Linked DNA regions of Homo sapiens. The protein of the gene in region 1 binds, or shares a complex with, the protein of each later gene. Each region holds a gene or a part of one and is shown on either strand. Other genes may lie near its edges. The genes, in order: MAP3K3 and CCM2. A codon is read from its position in the direction of its gene.

Evidence for each region.
Region 2: the proteins of MAP3K3 (region 1) and CCM2 are in contact, whole or in part, in a crystal structure (PDB 4Y5O), measured with the Homo sapiens proteins. Residues at the interface, in NP_002392.2 of Homo sapiens: Asp2, Glu3, Gln4, Ala6, Leu7, Ser9, Ile10, Met11, Asn12, Asp13, Leu14, Val15, Ala16, Leu17, Glu50, Asp82, His84, Met86, Asn88, Glu89, Leu90, Ser91, Ile92, Leu93, Arg117, Leu119, Leu121, Ser122, Gln123, Asp124; in NP_113631.1 of Homo sapiens: Leu299 (codon at 544), Tyr302 (codon at 553), Met303 (codon at 556), Leu306 (codon at 1,263), Arg307 (codon at 1,266), Ser312 (codon at 1,281), Gln313 (codon at 1,284), Ile315 (codon at 1,290), Gln316 (codon at 1,293), Gln317 (codon at 1,296), Phe318 (codon at 1,299), Ala319 (codon at 1,302), Ala320 (codon at 1,305), Leu321 (codon at 1,308), Leu322 (codon at 1,311), His323 (codon at 1,314), Glu324 (codon at 1,317), Arg326 (codon at 1,323), Glu333 (codon at 1,344), Ile336 (codon at 1,353), Asn337 (codon at 1,356), Gln340 (codon at 1,365), Leu341 (codon at 1,368), Leu353 (codon at 2,772), Phe356 (codon at 2,781), Pro358 (codon at 2,787).

Annotation. Positions count from the first base shown.
Region 1 is NC_000017.11:63,617,778-63,625,566, forward strand, and holds the start of MAP3K3 (mitogen-activated protein kinase kinase kinase 3), read left to right. Parts: upstream 1-4,639; 5' UTR 4,640-4,982; coding exon 4,983-4,986; intron 4,987-7,789. UniProt on the Homo sapiens protein: Component of a protein kinase signal transduction cascade. Mediates activation of the NF-kappa-B, AP1 and DDIT3 transcriptional regulators.
Region 2 is NC_000007.14:45,073,008-45,077,041, forward strand, and holds the end of CCM2 (cerebral cavernous malformations 2 protein), read left to right. Parts: intron 1-452; coding exon 453-564; intron 565-1,262; coding exon 1,263-1,401; intron 1,402-2,769; coding exon 2,770-3,050; 3' UTR 3,051-3,446; downstream 3,447-4,034. UniProt on the Homo sapiens protein: Component of the CCM signaling pathway which is a crucial regulator of heart and vessel formation and integrity. May act through the stabilization of endothelial cell junctions. May function as a scaffold protein for MAP2K3-MAP3K3 signaling.

The DNA.
Region 1 (7,789 bases):
GAATCAGGTGTCCATTTCAGAAAGATCAATCTGTGATGTGAATATATGTTGAGAGGCTGTTACGCTTAAGTCATGCAGGTAAGAGATTTTGGTGGTTTGAGCTAGGGTGGTAAAATGGGATGGGAGAGGGATGGACAGATTGGAGACTTGTTCAAGACTGGCTGTGGGGGAAAGAAATGGAGAGAAAGAGCTATCTGATCATTCGAAGGTATCCAACTTGGGAAACTGGAGAGGGACAGAGAAAATACAGAACTATGGGGGAAAATGGTTTCAGTTTGGACCCAAAATTGGAGGTTCCTGTGGGACACCCATGTCTGTGGAGTTCAGAAGAAAGACATCCCTGAGCTAGAGACACAGTTGAGATTCTGGAATCCTCAGCGCATATGGTAACTGCAGTATGGGAATGTTTGAGATGGCTGGTTGAGACACCGACAGTGCAAATGAAGCCACAAAGAAGGCAGTTGTAAGAAAGGTAGAAGGTAAATCAGAAGGTTGTTTTCAGCTAAAGACTCAGGTAGATGTACTGCGGTTCTCCATGTGTGAGGCACTATTCTAAGTGCTGGTGATAGAGCAGTAAGCAGGACAAAATTCCTGCTCCTGCATACCTTATGTTTGTGGTAGTTGGAGTAGAGCAAACAAATAAATATATAATTTTAGCCACTGAGAAAAAAAAACAAGGAAAAAATATACAAATACAGAATGATGGAAGGGAGGGGTCATTTTGGATGGGGTGATAAGAAATGACTTAAAAGCAGACGTTTGAGCAGAGACTTGAATAAACTGCAGAAATGAGAACATCTTGGCTTGGTAGTTTCAAAGAATGGAAAGAAGGCCAGAGTAGCTAGAGGACAGTGATGGAGGGACAGGATGGAGGGGCCAGCTCCTATTGGGCTTGGCAGGTCATGACAAAGAATTGGGGTTTTATTCTGAGTGTGATGGGAGGGAAGCCATTGGAGGGCTGACAGTGGGCAGGGGGTAGGGTGGCGTGATCTGAATTACATTTTACAGGGATCACTCTGGTTGCTATTGGGGAATCATTTGTTGGGCTGCCACAGAGGAAACAATGGAGGCCAGATAGGAGTCTGGGGCAGTCATTCAGGAGAGTAGGTGGTGGCTTGGATAAGGGGGGTGGGATGAGAAGTGGTTGGATTCAGGTGTGTGTGTGTGTGTGTGTGTGTGTGTGTGTGTGTGTGTATTTTTATTGTATTTTTTTTGGAGACAGGGTTTCACTCTATTGCTCAGGCTGGAGTGCAGTGGCACAATCTCGGCTCACTGCAACCTCCGCCTTCTAGGTTCAAGCGATTCTCCTGCCTCAGCCTCCAAGTAGCTAGGATTACAGGCCACCACACCTGGCTAATTTTTATATTTTTAATAGAGATGGGGTTTCACCATATTGGCCAAGCTGGTTTCGAACTCCTGACCTCAGGTGATCCACCTGCCCTGGCCTCCCAAAGCGCTGGGATTACAGGTGTGAGCCACTGCGTCCGACCTGATTCAGATACATTTTGAAGTGGGAGCTGAAAAGATTTGCTGCATGTTTGGATATATGGGTGTCAGGGAGAGAGAATAATCAAGGAACACTCCTAGGTTTGTACAGAGGGTCTCTGACTTACTATGGTTCGGCTTATACCTTTTTTTTTTTTTTTTTTTTTTGAGATGGAGTTTTGCTTTTGTTGCCCAGGCTGGAGTGCAATGGCATGATCTTGGCTCACTGCAACCTCTGTCTCCCGGATTCAAGCAATTGTCCTGCCTCAGCCTCCCAAGTAGCTGGGATTACAGGTGTGCGCTACCACGCCCAGCTAATTTTTTATTTTTAGTAGAGATAGGGTTTTACCATGTTGGTCAGGCTGGTCTCGAACTCCTGACCTCAAGTGATCCACCCGCCTCAGCCTCCCAAAGTGCTGGGATTACAGGTGTGAGCCACTGTGCCCCGGCCTCAGCTTATGATTTTTGGCGTTATGATGGTTCAAAAGCAACACACAATTCAGTAGAAACTGTGCTTTGAGTACAACCATTCTGTTTTTCATTTTCAGTACAGTATTTGGTAAATTACATGAGCTATTCAAAACTTTCTTATAAAATAGGCTTTGTGTTAGATAATTTTGTCCAACTGTAGGCTAACTTAAGTGTTCGAGCACGCTTAAGATAGGCTTGGCTAAGCTATGATGTTCAGTAGGTCAGGTGTATTAAATGCATTTTCTACTTAACGATTGTTCATCTGATGGTTTATCTGGACATGGCCCCATGGTAAGTCGAGCAGCATCTGTGCTTTAGCAATTGGGAAAACAGAAAGGAGCATGGCAGCTCACACCTGTAATTCCAGCAATTTGGGAAGTTGAGGTGGGAGGATTGCTTGAGCCCAGGAGTTTGAGACCAGTTTGGGCAAAATGGTGGGACACCCCCAACTCTACAGAAAATTTTTTTTACAAAGGCTCTACTCTACCTGACAAAATCTTATTCCTTAGTATTTAATTTCTCTTCTTAGGGAGAATTTAAATTTAATTAAGTAATTTAAATTAAAATTTTTTCCTGGCAGGGGTGGATAATGAAAAAAAGGTTGAGAAACACTGGCCTAGTGCAAGAACATGGCCTTTGGGAGTCACACAGGCTTGGTATGAATCCTGGCTCCACTACTTGGACACAGTGCTTAACCTCTCTAAGCTTCACTTTCATCATTTAAATGCCCACAGTATTAGCATAATAACCTTAGAGTTATTGGAAAAATTAAATGCAATGACGTGCCTGTTATATTGATAAATACTAATTTTCTTTCCCCTTTATCCCCGCTTTCAAGAATAGAGATTATTATAGTTAAGGAACTCCAGTAAACTGGGTAGAGACCAAATCAAGTGGGAATATGGCAGGCTTAAGCTTGTTGGAAGAAAAAGAAAACAGGACAAGGGGGCTGATTAAATATACGGAGATGAGTGTAAAGAAATAAGGGAGGCTGCTTGCAGTGGCTCACGCCTGTAATCCCAGCACTTTGGGAGGCCGAGGCTGGCGGATCACCTGAGGTCTGGAGTTCGAGACCAGCCTGGACAACATGGCGAAACCCCGTCTCTACTAAAAATTCAAAAATTAGCCGGGCGTGGTGGCGCACGCCTGTTAATCCCAGCTACTTGAGAGGCTGAAGCAGGAGAATTGCTTGAACACGGGAGACGGAGGTTGCAGTGAGCCGAGATCGCGCCACTGCACTCCAGCCTGGACGACAGTGTGAGACTCCATCTCGAAAAATAAAAAAGAAAAAGAAAAGAAATAGGGGAGAGCCCAAGGTAATTCTTAAGGGATTTGACACTCAAGGCAAAGCCACCACTAAATGTTCTTAGTGGACAGTGGACAATGACATCTGAGGAAGATTATTCTGGAGCCTGACATATTACACTGGAACAGAGGCCGGAGAAAGGAGCCCACATTAATTGTGGTGGACTTGGAATCTGAAGATCTGAGTGTATAAAATGTTGAACAATGAAAAGGTTGGGGAAATTAATTATGGTGCCTTTAATTTTGAAACATCATGCAATCAGTACAATTGTTTTGGAAGGATATTTGGTGGCACGGGAAAACAGAATAAAATGTAAGCATACTACAAAACAATACAAAGCCATTTTTGTCAAACGCCTATCTAGGTAGGAAATAGATTATCTCTGGGGTGGGATCTTTTCTTTTTCATAGTTTTCTGCATTTTTCAATTTTCCTACAAAAAGCTCGTGTTGCTTTTATAAGAAAAAAGTTATTTTCTGAAAGAACCTCTGGCGGAACTCAGATTTCCAGGGACCCACATGCCAGCACTATCCCAGCCTCGGGTGTCTGAGGTACCTAGACCAGAGGGTGTGGCCCTGGAGGTGTGAGACAGGGAAAGCTGGGCTGGGCCGGCCGCCCCTGCCCGGGGCAAGAGCAGCGTCGGGACCGGAGGACCAGTCGGGGGATGGGGCCGCAGAGGTGGCCGCGCGCCGGGAAGTGCTCAGGCCAGACCCTCCCCACTCGTTACACGCCCTGTGCTGGGCACGGGGAGGAGCAGGACGCCACCCTCTGGAACCACCCAGATCGCTGGGGCCTCCGAGAACCCGGAGGGCGGAAGGCCTGAGGGCCCCCTGCAGCCGCCTACTCCTCACCCCAGCCCTAAAGTAGCCGGCGGGGAACTGCGCCAGCCCGCGCGCCCGCCGAGCCTTCGGTGACTGACGGGAGGTGGGAATGTGGGCGGAGCCTCACGCCGGAGCTGTGATTGGAACAACCAACACCTCCCAATCTCTCCCAAGAGAGGGAGACAGCACCAGAGAGGGATGCGCAGAGGCGGGGGCTTAGAGGCCTCTACGTGATTGGCTAACAGCGCAGGGAGCCGGGCGCTGTCCCGATGATTGGCAGGCGCTAGACAGCCCTCGGAAACCGCCTTGGCTTCGCCCATTGGCATCCTGTGAGAGTAGGCGGGATTGGTTCATCGTGTGGTGCTGATGATTAGCTGGCCGCTGAGAGTTAGGGTGTTGGGAGAGAGTTGGAGGGGGACGGCGGGGGCTGCCGACTTCCTTCTTGTTATTGGCTGGTGAGGTGGGTGGGGGTGGTGCGACGGCCCAGCGGCTGCCTGGGATTGGTGGGGGCCGGCGTGAGTGACAGACAGGGGGGCGAGCTGCGCGACCAGCGGTTTGTTTTTCGGAGCGTTCCTGAGGTGGAGAACGGTGGCCGGACGGAGAGACTGCGGGTCTGAGGGACTGGCGGGCGGGCGGGCCGAGCGGCGCCGCCGAGGCCGGGCTGGGCCGAGCCCAGGAGCGCCCGGGATGTAGCGGGCCACCCTGCCGATGCCACAGCGCCCGGCCGCGGGCGGAGCCGGAGCCGGAGCCTGGGGAGGCGGCGGGGGCCCAGAGCGCAGCCCGCGCCCCCCGCGCGGAGCCAGGCCCGCTGCCGTCCCCGCCGCCCGGGCCCCCGGCATGCAGCCCCGGCTGCGGAGGTGACACTCACGGACCTTAGCCACCGCCGCCGCCATCGCCACCATGGGTAAGTGTCGCCACCGCCCCGGCCTGTGCCCGCGCTGCTTCGCGACGCCCCGCCCCAGGCTGAGGGAGGAGGACCCTGGGCCACCGCCTGACAGGCATGGACAGCCCGCCCGGCCCGGGGCTGCGGACCGCCGGCCGGCCGGCCGCCCGCCCCGCTCGCGCGCCGCGGCCCGGGCGGGGGTTCTGGCTCCGCGGGGCGGCCCGGCCGGCAGAGCCCGCTCGGCAGCCCTCCTTCTGGGCGGCGCGGCGGGCGCATCCCGGGGAAGCGGCGGCGGGACCGAGGGCCCGTGCTCCGCGGGGCAGCCTGGTCCGAACGAGCCGGACCGCGAGCCCGAGGGCGGGGGAGCAAGAGCGCAGTGTGGGGCCCGGGCTGGAGGCTGCCGCAGGCCCAGCTGCTGTTGTGTCTTTTCCTTGATTTGCTTTTTTTTCCTGCCTGTGTCATTTCCTTCCCTTTGCTCACACAGGCCGGCCTGTGAGAGTTCCCGGGGCTTGCTCTCCAGCCCTGTGCGCGCCCCAGCGCAGGGGGGAGGGCGTGCGGGGCTCGGCTAGGAGGCGATTAAACTGGAGCTGTGATCAAGCGCGCGGTTGACAAATGCGTGCTGCACGCAGATTGCTGGGGGTCAGGAGTTGGTCGGATGCTGCCAGTTAGAATTCACATCCTACTTTTTGAAAAATCCCGTTGCAGGGGTTTAATCCATTATTTTTTTCTTGCGGTATCCCTGAAATTATGTAACTTTTGAAAGAAACATTTGCTACACAAAAGAATTTCTCTGAAATCACTTCCTTTTTGTCAGTATTTACAATTTCTACTGTGAAGATGTAATCTAAGGAAAGCTTTTAATGTCTTCCGCACGTAGCATTTGAGTTGAATTATATTCCATATCCTTTTTGGTAGTTTAGCAAATGACTACTGGACTAGACTAAGAAATAACATTTTAAACGTTCTTTACTTCTCCTGCCCAGACAGGTGTTGTGATACTGTTGTCACAAGTTTTGCAAAATATTTGGTATTGCCCTAAATAATAATAAAAGGGTAAACTTCAGTGAGAGGATCGTTTGCAAAACGTTCCGTTGCTTCTGTGAAGTGCCCCATGTGAAGAGGGAGCCTTAATGTTTGCCTTGCCCTATAGCAAGGTCAAGTCCTTTTTGTAGGAGGTTAACTGTACGCTATGTCAAATTCGCCAGATATTGTTTTGTGACCCATCTCTACACCCTGGCTTTGAATGAATTGCCTTGTTCTAGTTCATGCTGTCCCTCATACAGTATGAGAAGGGTTTGTTCATTTGCTGGGCTTACTGTTTCCTTCTCATGCTTTCCTTCAGAAGTGCGTGCTCTTCTGAGGGAAGGTCTGCTGTGAGAGTGGACATAAAAGGAACCCAGTAAGGCCTGGTATTTAAATATATAATTGAAGAAATGTTTATTGAATTTTTTTATAGATGAGACACAGAATTCTTGTCTACCCCAGGATTCAAACATTTATCTTGTATTATAGATTTTGAATAAATCTTCGAATTGATTTATGAGCCTGTATTGTGATAGTCTTTCTTACAAGTCTTTTTTCTTGTCCTGTGGGGGCAGCTGTTAGTCCCAAAGGAGAGTGTGAAATACTTAAGGGTATGTAGACCATCCACTTCCTACTTTGTTGACTGCTACACCAGTTAGAGTGCCCACATGTGTTGACTACATCTCATTATCTAACATGAAAATAGATATGAACCTGTTTTCACATTTCAAGACATTTTCAAAAAGTTTATAAGTGTGTGAGTATATGGAGACCAATGATGGGGAGGAAGGAAACTATATAGGCTGGGTCTAGAGCCCCAAAGAAAAAAGGGCCAGGACCTCAGGATCTTCTCATTTGTCCCCACATCAGTTGTCCTCCTGTCAGTTTTACGTGAAGACACATGTAAAAGGAACATGCAAGAGGAATTAACTTCCCTGGTGGCTGCAGTATATTAGGCAAGCTAGTTTAAGAACCACTGCCCTAGCTTTCTTCACTTTCCCCCATACAATTCTCTCCATCTTTTTTGTGAGGGGAAAGTAGATGACCTTGATACACTGTTAGAGCTAATATTGAATTCTTCTTGACACCTGGCTGTTCAATTTGCTTTGTATAGAGCTCATTGAGGATATGTATACACAGATACATTCACACACAGTCTCTCTCTTAAATACTAGTTTCCATTTTGGTGATGAAAATTTGAATTTCCAGTTTAGTTAGTTTGCTTTTAGTTGCTGTAGTTCTAAATAAACTCAAAGGATTGATAAGAGAGAAACATAGACTTCTTAGTATTTTAGTTATACTTGTTAAACTCCAGCCTCATGAAGAAAGGACTAAAACTTGAGTCTCTGCCCTGCAGGTTCTTTGGTTAAGTAACAGTCACATTTTCCTGAGCTGTTCTAAGCCCAAGACTGAAGCCTGTTTGACAACTTGGGTTAATAAAAACATGTCAGATTTTATATTGTCTGTTAGCCCCAATGAATTTCTAGTGGAAATTATTTATCTCTGTAAATAATAGGAAATTTTTTTTTTTGCTTTGATACTATGTGGCTATAAAAAATTGGGATTGACTGGTTGTTTTTTCTTGGTCACTCCAGAATTCATTTCCAGATTTAGTAATCATAGTGGCAAATGCTGTTCATAATACCTGAGATTGTTTATGTGGTCTTTTTATAAACGCAGTCTGAAACTTTATATATCACTGAAAAATATGTAACAACTTGGAAATGCTACAGGAAACTATAGTGAATGGAGTACAGGATTACAGATGATCTGGTTCTGGTTTGAAGTCAGAATTATTGTG
Region 2 (4,034 bases), on another chromosome or scaffold:
TTCCCATGGCCTCCCAAGAGTGAGCTTGTAATAGGCATGTTGGATGGAGCTGTTCCCCTGCCCGAGCCTGCCGAGGCGCTGGCCTTCCAGCCCATCTCTGCCACCACCTGGGGCTCTGTAGTAGTTCACCCACTCGCGCTCTCCATTCCTGCCACCTCCCCAACCCTGGCTCCTTCCCCTGCCCAACAATGCTGCCCACTGCCTTGACCTGTGTACTCCCTCTCTTCACTCAGAGCCCAACTCAGAGCCATGCCCCCGGGGAGCCCCAGGACCAGGCCAAGCTGACCACCCTGCATGCCCAGTCAGCTCTCCTCTCATCATCATCATCATCACTTACATTCCTCTGTTCAAGGACAGGGACCCACACACACGGCATGGACTAGGTTTCCTGAAACGTGTGTGGGATGGAGGGTCGGGGAAGCCACCCGCTCACATACCACATTCTTTCGCAGCTGCTTCCCTGAATCTGTGGATGTGGGTGGTGCATCACCCCACAGCAAGACCATCAGTGAGAGCGAGCTGAGCGCCAGCGCCACTGAGCTGCTGCAGGACTACATGCTGACGGTAGGCCTCCGCTGCAGGGACGCTGGGCTGCATGAGGGAGGGGGTGCCCCAGGGAGGATGGGGGGAAGGGGAGGAGGAGGAGGAGCAGTGCAGGGCAGGCTGCAGTGAGTGAGGTCACCTAGAGCACTCTTGGTCAATTTTGCTGACATCACTGCCTTTTCCTGGGGATAGTCTAGGAGAGCATCAGTCAGTGGGGCTGAGTTGGGAGTGCTGTGGCCGTCAGGGCTGGACTGTGGGCCTGTGCTTGGGTCCTGGGGGAGGGGAGGGAACGGTGGCCCCTGCAAGGCCACATGGCCAGACATTTTTATCCTCCCCATCTTATATAGTTCTGTCATTGCAAACTCAAGTCTTCCTGATTTGCCTGTGTGCCTGTGTGTAGCCTAAGGGCACAGGCATTGGCCCCGGGCCAGGTTGCCAACTTCCACCCTGCCCTGCTGGCTCCTGTCCCTCCCATGCACTCTGTGTTCCAGCTCAGGAGAGTGGAGCTGCCCGGGTGCCTTGGTCTCCTCTGGGTGGCCCCGTGCCAGGTCTGGTAGGATGGGGACACATTGTGGTCATTCTGATGCCCCAGCCTGTGCAGAGGTGAAGCCAGAGACAGCTGGTGCTCTGGCTGGGGTTAGTGGCTGTGGCAAGGTGGGCCCGACTGCCGACTCTTGCCTACTGTGCCCAGCCCCCTATCTGGCTCTGCTCTCTTGCAGCTGCGCACCAAGCTGTCATCACAGGAGATCCAGCAGTTTGCAGCACTGCTGCACGAGTACCGCAATGGGGCCTCTATCCACGAGTTCTGCATCAACCTGCGGCAGCTCTACGGGGACAGCCGCAAGTTCCTGCTGCTTGGTGAGTGGGCCCTGGAAAGAGGGTGGCTTGTCCAAACCTGGCTTGGAGAGGCTGATCCCTCCTGGGAATGTGCACACGGACCCCTCAGTGGGTGCAGCAGGGGCTCCATCAGGGATGGGAGATTTGAACCAGAGATGGCATGAGAGCAGAGTCCAGAGATCGGGGAATCTGCTGTGATTAGTCAGAAGGGCTTTTCCCAGGTACTGTTGGGGGCCCACCGACAGGCCTTCATTCTCCTGGGAACTCAAGCTGAGCTGGGTGGGCCCTGCCAGGAAGTAGCAGAGATCCCCCAGGAGCAGGGCTGGGAGTGAACACAACCCTGAGATTTAGGAAAACAGTGCTGGAGGAGCCAGAGAGGCATGGGTTTTGGTGAATGTGTAGGACTTCAAGGCGGAAGGACCAGCGTTTGCCAAGACCCCTAAAATGCTCGGCACATTAGGTCAGTGCGGCTAGAGGGCTGTGTGGTCTGAGCAGCAGAGTTGGATGTTGGCCCCACACCTCTCAGGGGCGGTGACTTAGCTGTGGTTTCCCTCTGCCGACACTTAGAACACAGCAAGTTTGCGGTAATGTGTTGCTAGTAGCCAGTTGAAGGCTTCTGGGTCCTGGCCTGTTTTCCCTGCAAACCAAGGAAGGTGGGTTTGTTAACCATCGTACCGACCTGGCAGTGGCAAACGTGGATTGCCTGCCCAGGGCTCCCCGCTCTTAGGAGCGTGAAGGGCTGGAGGCTGGGGCAGCCTGTCTGTACAATAGGTTCTGTCTAAGCAGTGCCTGCCCCTTCTGTGCTGGGCCCTGCGTTGCCTCCTGGCATGGGACTCTGTCTGCCCCTCCACATCGGGGAGTAGAGATTCTGAGAGACACACTAGGCTTCCCAAATAAGAGGGCAGCCCTCTGAGTTGGGACAGTCACCTAGGTCATGGCAGGGAAACTGGACTTTGGCATGAGGCCTGCCTCTGAGGACTGCACCCTTGTTGCCGGGTGCCAGCAGGTGGCTTTGAGCACTGCTCTGGGCCTCAGCTTTCCCCACTGTAAAATGGGTCCTTTGTGAGGACTAATAGAGAATGAGAGGAGGCCACAGGTTCTTGGCCTGTGCTGGTGCCTTGAGGCCAGGGAGTGTGCATGTGGCAGAGGCAGTAAGCTGTCAGGGCCAGCAGCAGTGTCTGTCAAGAGTTGAGGTTTTAGCCAAACTGTCTGGCCCCAGGAAGCATGATTTCAACCAGGATGCTAGATGCAGTGAGCATGGCATCAGGGTCCCCAAGGCCATGCACCAGGGGCAGCTGTGGCCCTGTCAGGGGGCTTTGAGCCCTGAGAGAAGAGCTGAGTGGGCTGAGCCGAACTGGAGGTGCCATGCTGGGTGTTGTGTGTCTGCAGGTCTGAGGCCCTTCATCCCTGAGAAGGACAGCCAGCACTTCGAGAACTTCCTGGAGACCATTGGCGTGAAGGATGGCCGCGGCATCATCACTGACAGCTTTGGCAGGCACCGGCGGGCCCTGAGCACCACATCCAGTTCCACCACCAATGGGAACAGGGCCACGGGCAGCTCTGATGACCGGTCGGCACCCTCAGAGGGGGATGAGTGGGACCGCATGATCTCGGACATCAGCAGCGACATTGAGGCGCTGGGCTGCAGCATGGACCAGGACTCAGCATGATGGACAGTGGATGGGGGGGCACCCACACCTTCCGCGCAGTCGTCATAGGCCTTCCCAGAAGGAGCTGCCCAGACCTGCGTGTCAGCCCTTGGTGGTGGCCAGGGAGAGGCGCCCGGTGCAGATGGCCCCGGGCGGCCCAGGTCCTCTACTGTGAAGGAGCAGGGAGCTGCCGAGGGACACGAGCCTCAGTGCGGGGTGGAAGGCTCTTTGCCTTGTCCACCAGGGCTCAGCCAAGCCCTGCAGTGTGTCCCCGCTCGGGGAGGGCCCGGCCGAGCGGGCAGGGAGAGCCAGTCCTGTCGGCTGGGCCCTTGGACGGCTGTCAGTTTTGCACATGATGTTCCTATTGTAACTCTCAGAGACCTTAAAAAGAAGTTTACTGCAATGTGAATAATTTAATCTCTGGTTGCCAAGCATGTTTCTGATCCAGTTGGGTGAAAGCCATCGGTGCCAGGAGGGGTGTCCGCTCTAGCCTCTGTCCCTGGGTCCCCATCTGCCCTGCAGCACCTGGGACTCGGCAGTGGTCCCTGGGGGCTGGGGTGGAGGAGGCAACAGGCTCTTGTGCCACAGGAAGGACTTGATTTGGACTTGAGCAGTGTGGATGTGGGGCAGGAGCGGGTGTTCTGAGGCCTTTCGTGGGCAGCGTGTGTGAGGGTAGCGTGTGTGGCATGTGTTGGGGGCACCTTGATCTTTACATCCTGTGCACTGAATCCTTCAAGGTCACTGGCTGTGCCCCGCACCCCCCCTCCCCCCAACCCCATGCTGCAGGTTTTTTCCTCAAGCAGCCTGCACTACCCCGTGGAACAGAAATGCTCTCTGAGATCTCGTCACCTTGGAGCCTGGGGGCTGGGTCTTCAGAGGCCAGTGTGCAACTCTGCCGACCCTCCCTGTGCCGTCATTGTGGGCCTGTCTCCATCCTTGTCCCGTGAGCTCTTCTCCCCAAACCCTGTTGGCCTTGGTCTTGCCTATACCCTTTGGGCCCTTACA